2 separate regions of the Homo sapiens genome follow, and region 1 is linked to region 2. The links come from fine-mapping of genetic effects on gene expression. Tissue or cell type: whole blood. Region 2 holds a variant in brackets; the other region holds the start of a gene. All regions are shown on one strand. Distances are between the middles of the regions.

The links. PIP is the estimated chance that this variant, and not a neighbour inherited with it, causes the effect.
Region 1: CTSH starts here. The variant in region 2 is fine-mapped to the expression of CTSH in whole blood (INTERVAL, PIP above 0.99).

What each region holds. Positions count from the first base shown.
Region 1 is chr15:78,943,923-78,946,676 of GRCh38, forward strand. It overlaps CTSH (cathepsin H), which reads right to left and starts at 1,124. Exons shown (of 12, transcript NM_004390.5): 1 at 969-1,124. The coding sequence starts at 1,059. RefSeq lists silencers at 245-539, 977-1,326 and enhancers at 317-855, 856-1,394.
Region 2 is chr15:78,995,682-78,998,435 of GRCh38, forward strand. It overlaps RASGRF1 (Ras protein specific guanine nucleotide releasing factor 1), which reads right to left. Exons shown (of 27, transcript NM_001145648.3): 19 at 2,415-2,527; 20 at 59-119. Among named protein-coding and RNA genes, the nearest start is that of CTSH, 52 kb to the left of the region's middle. RefSeq lists an enhancer at 768-1,541. The variant C/T (reference allele first, on the strand shown) is at 1,414.

The sequences.
Region 1 (2,754 bases), 52 kb before region 2:
TTGCAAGGCTGGGGAGCTTTTTAAATAAATAGGTGGGAAGGAATGAGGCAACCCTCTGGCCCAGATTCAGCCTCAGTGATCTCTGTCCCATCCCCTGAGCCTCTAGCTGGGGGAAAGCCCTGTCCCGTTCCTCCAGAGCTCAGGGCACCCCCCCTCCCTAGGTTCTTGGCTCCTTGGGTTGTTTCTTGGCTACTTTTCTCGGTGAAGGGGGCAGGTGGTCTTTAAGTTCAGAGCCTGTGGGCTGAGGCTGGGACCAGGGACAGTAGGAAAGGAGGGAGGCAGTAGGGAAGAGCAGGCTCCTTGCCTTCAGCCAGGGGAGGTGCCTGAGCCCGGGCAGTAGACAGGATGCAAGGGCAGCACGAAGCTGGACCAGTCGCAGCCAATCTGGCCAACAAGAGGAGTCCTGGGGCTCCACCTGACGCCATGGGCCCTGGGGTGCTGTTAAAAGCGCTGTTGGTCTGAGTGCTTTCCCTGGTGCCGTTGCACAGGGATTCACTGTTCCAAACAGCCCGTCCAACCTACTCTACAGATGGGACTCCCAAGACACTACGGGGATCCCCTGTGTGCCAAGTCCCGGGGGAAGCTGCTAGAGAAGGCTGGGACGTCCTTGCTCACCTCTGGCAGGGACAGATCAGAGTCCTCTGTGTGACACTCTGTGTCCCCAGTTGAGGAAGGCGGAAGGAGCTGCGGGCTCCTTTGGTATTCTAGGCTGGAGAGCCACCTGGCTAGGTGGGACCCTGGACACTCAGCCCATCTGCTCCTCTGGTCCTACAAGCCGCCCACCCTCCGAGAACCCCCGCCTATAATGCAGTTTACCCCTCCCCGTGCCAGCACGCAGAGTTCCTGGCCTCTCACCGGGGAAAGCTCTGCCCCGTTCCTCCGGAGCCCAGTGCGCCCCTGGCCAAGTTCTCCCAGCGTCCACTCTAGGGCCTGCTAGCACCCTCTCGGGCGGCGCGCCCTCTGCGTACCTAAGGAGTTCACGCACAGTTCGGCGGCACCGCAGACGGGGACTCCCAGGAGCCAGGCCCCGGCGCAGAGCAGCGGCAGCGTGGCCCACATCGCAGCGCTGGCGGCTTGGCTCTTGCGCTCAGGGTCCGCGGAGGTGGCGGCCCAGAGCGTCAACTGGGAGCGCGGGGGGGGAGCGGCACGAGCGTGGAGGAGCGGCGGGAGCGCGAAGGGGCGGAGCGAGCGCGGGGCGGAGCGAGCGCGGGGCGGGGTGGGCGGTACTCCCCCGAGGCCGGGCTCGCGGGAGGGGGCGGCGCCGACTAACTCGCCAGCTCTAGTTCACCTGTCGGCCGGCCGCGTCGCTCCCTTATCTCCTCTGGGAGGAAGGGCTTATCTGGGTATCAGGCCTGGCTGAGTCCTGGATCTGCCTGGACTGGCTGGCACCGCGCGGGGAGGTCTCAGCCTGGCCTCTCCCTCTCCCAGCCTGTCGCCATCCCCACGTCCCCCATCTCCCTGCGTGTCCCCACCTCGCACCCCCCCATCTCCCTGCCTATCCCCAACTCGCACCCCTCATGTCCCTTCCTGTCCCCACCTCACACCATGTCCCTGCCTGTCTTCACCTTGCACCCTCCATCTCCCTGCCTGTCCCCACCTCGCTCCCCCTATGTCCCTGCCTGTCTCCACCTCACACCCCCATCTCCCTGAATGTGCCCACCTCCCACCCCCTATGTCCCTGCCTGTCCCCACCTCCCACCCCCATGTCCCTGCCTGTCCCCACCTCGCACCCCCATGTCCCTGCTTATCCCCACCTCGCACCCCCCCATCTCCCTGCCTGTCCCCAACTCACACCCCCCATCTCCCTGCCTGTCCCCACCTCAGACTCCCCATGTCCCTGCCTGTCTCCACCTCACACCCTTATGTCCCTGCCTGTCCCCACCTCGCACGCCCCACGTCCCTGCCTGTCCCCACCTCGCACTCCCCATGTCCCTGCTTGTCCCCACCTCGCACCCCCCATCTCCCTGCCTGTCCCCACCTCACACCCCCCATGTCCCTGCCTGTCTCCACCTCACAGCCTTATGTCCCTTCCTGTCCCCACCTCGCACCCCCCATCTCCCTGCCTATCCCCACCATACCCCTATGTCCCTGCCTGTCCCCACCTCACACCCCCATGTCTCTGCCTGTCCCCACCTCACACCCCCATATCCCTGCCAGTCCCCACCTCACATCCCCCCATCTTCCTGCATTTCCCCACCTCACACCCCTATGTCCCTGCCTGTCCCCGCCTTGCACCTCCCATCTTCCTGCCTGTCCCCACCTCACACCCCCTCATGTCCCTGCGTGTCTCCACCTTGCACCCCCATCTCCCTGCCTGTCCCCACCTCATACCCCCCATGTCCCTGTGTGTCTCCACCTCAGACTTTCCCCCACACTCCCCACGTCTCCCTGCCCTGGTTAACCACATTTCCCTGGCTTCCCTTTTGCTTGGAGTGGACTTACAACTGAAGAAGCTAGACGACCTCCTTGTGAATTGTTTTGCCCCCTCAACAGACATTTTAGTCTTTCTGCTGAGGAAGCTACATTAAGAGCTGTAGGGCCATTCTCTGTAGTTTGCAAAGCTAAAGAAGATGGTATGTAAGGGTCTGGGTGTGAGACAGACAGAAGAACGTGCGTTCCAGGCTGAGGAGGCCGGTGCTGTCACTGCTTTGGGTGAGGAGAGGGTGATTCAGACCAGCCTGTGCCGTAGCCTCAAATGCCCAGTGATGCCCTGTTCTTCACTTACATCATCACCTTGCAAAGTGGCATGTTGTT
Region 2 (2,754 bases):
CCTGGGCAGGAGGATGGGGAGGAAAGCCTTGGAAAGCAAGAGGGCAGGCCCAGCTCACCATCTGCGTGATCTCCTCCAGCGTGATCTGGTTGTCACCTGGGTCCTCCTGGGTCAGAGTCCTAGGCAGGAGCGAGAAGGCACGGTGAGCCCCACTTCACGTTGCAGCAGCCCCTCCCCAGCTCGGACAGCCCCACACGGCCTCTGCTCTTACGCCCCTCTGTCCTCGTCATCCCCATTGCCAGGAGCACCCTTTCCCCTTCCTCCTTCACTCTTCTTCCTGATGGTCCTGGCGCTCCTGGCTGTGGGAGGTCCCCTTCTGGGGCCCTCTCAGCCCCTGGGCTTCCTGCATCTGGCTGGGTGGGAATGGCCTTTCTGCCACCTCAGGCAGGGAGCCCTTGAGGGAGGGACGGTGTCTGATTCAGCCCCATAGCTCTGGTGCCAGCACAGGACTGGACATTCAGCAGGCGCTCCTGCGAGCACATGGATGACAGGATGCATGACAGGAAGGAAGCACAGGGAGTGGGGAGGCAGCAGCATGGCAGCCACAGGCCCAGAGGAGGGACTGCAAGGATGGAATTGGGAGAGCAGAGGAGAGTGGTACACACGGTGGGGAATGAGGGTAGAGCCTCAAAGTCAGGCCAAAGTGCCGCACGCTCACAGTGATGGGCTCAGAGCCACAGCTGGTGAGTACCAACGGAGGCTGCGGACACTGGAGAGCCAGGCCTGGGCTGCGTGGGGACAGCCAGGGGTCTGCAGGCCTGCCGGGGCTGCGGGGAGTGGCTCTCTGGATCAGCCTGGCAGAAGGCATTGTCGTGTATATCTTACAGCTGAGGAAACGGCCCCTCAGGGAACTGCCTCACCTGGGGTCCCGCAGCTGGAGCATGGTGGGCCCACGCTCCAAACCAGGGCTGCCAACTCCAGAGCCTGCTCTTTCATCACACCCAGGGAACAGGCTCCCCTCCGAGGGTGGCTTTGATCAATATGCTCGGTGGGGGGCTCCACACACTCCTAAGGCCTCCTGGGAGGACCACGAGTGGCGGCTGTGTGTGTGTGTGCGTGTGTGTGTGTGTGGGCATGTGTGCACACACTCTGGCCTCTGTACTGAAGATGTGGAGGCCTGAAAGAGATTTTAGGACTGTGAGCCTGAGGGAAGAATGGGCCCCAGCATGGGGCCTCCACGGCCTGGCTGGGGAGGATGTCTGGGCACTCTGGTCACAGGCAGGACTTGGGGGAAAGTCTGGGGAGGCTGGGGCCAGGCAAGAGGTGAGGAGGAAAGGCCAGGGCCCAAGCCCTCACACCTGGGCTGGGCTGGGAGCAGACAGGCTGAGTCGGTAGGTGCCCGCCACCCACTGAACAGCCTGTAAAAGTGACACCCGTGATCTCATCCCAGCCTTGAAGCGGGTATTGTTCACC[C/T]ATTTTATGGATGAGGCTCAGAGCGGGGACTTGCCCAGGTCACATGAGTCACTGGCTGAGCATCTCAGACATCGGGCTGCCTGACCCTGACCTCCACCAGGAGAGGACAAGCATGGGTTTGGGGATAAACAACTTAACTGAATTCAATTCAACAGACACTCAAGCACCTACAAATCAGGCCTCGCCAGCACTGTTTAATAGATCTCTGCAGTGATGGCAGCATCCTACACCCTGTACTGTCCAATGCAGGGACTGCTAGCCACATGTCGGGGGTGAAGCTGAGGCTGCTGGGCTCATGTCACTGAGGAACTGAACTTTAAATTTTATTTAATTTTCATTAAGATTTAAATAGCCAAGGCCGGGCATAGTGGCTCATGCCTGTAATCCCAGCACTTTGGGAGGCCGAGGTGGGCAGATCGCCTGAGGTCAGGAGACTGAGACCAGCCTGGCCAACATGGTGAAACCCCGTCTCTACTAAAAATACAAAAAAAATTAGCTGGGCGTGGTGGCAGGTGCCTATAATCCCAGCTACTGGGGAGGCTGAGGCAGGAGAATCTCTTGAACCTGGGAGGTGGAGGTTACAGTGAGCCAAGATCACATCACTGCATTCTAGCCTGGGTGACAAGAGCGAGACTTCGCCTCAAAAAAAAAAAAAAAAAAGATTTAAATAGCCTTATGTAGCTAGTGCCTACCATATTGGATGGCACAGGCTAGACAGGGGTTAGCAGCTGTGGACACACATGGAGAAGTGTGCTGGGTTCTTGCTTTGAAGAGATCAAGGTCTGGCGCAGGGTGGGGAGAGAGGAAAGAAGGACAAATAGACTACCCAGCCCTGAGCCTGCCCCCAAGAGCTCACCTCTACCCCAGCACTCCTACTTGGGGCTGTCCTTGACAAGGGCGCTCTTCACCTCCCGGGCCTCTGACCAGCCCACATGGAGGCAGAAGGCAGGGCTCCTGTCCCAGCAGGCAGTTCTGAGCCAGGAACCAGGTACTGCCTTTACCTGATGATGTTGGCTGCAGCCTTCCGCTCCTGGGTCAGGAGCTCCGGGTCGTGCATGACTTCTTCCAGGAAGCCGATCACCTTGCATTTGAGCTCATCGTTGGTCTCAAAGTCCTGCCGGGAAGGTGTGATGGGTGGCTCTGGTTACTGTTTTTGAGCTGCTCTGCAGTGGTCTGGGCCCAGGCCAGAGGAAGGAGCTCCAGTTTCTATTCTGCCCAGGGCAGGCTGACCTGCCTCATTTCCTTTCTGTTGGCTTCCTGGCAGGGCATGAGAGGCTCTCCAGGCCTAGAGAATCTTAGATAAAGGCACTGGAACCAGATCAAAGCCCATCTTTCAGCTGG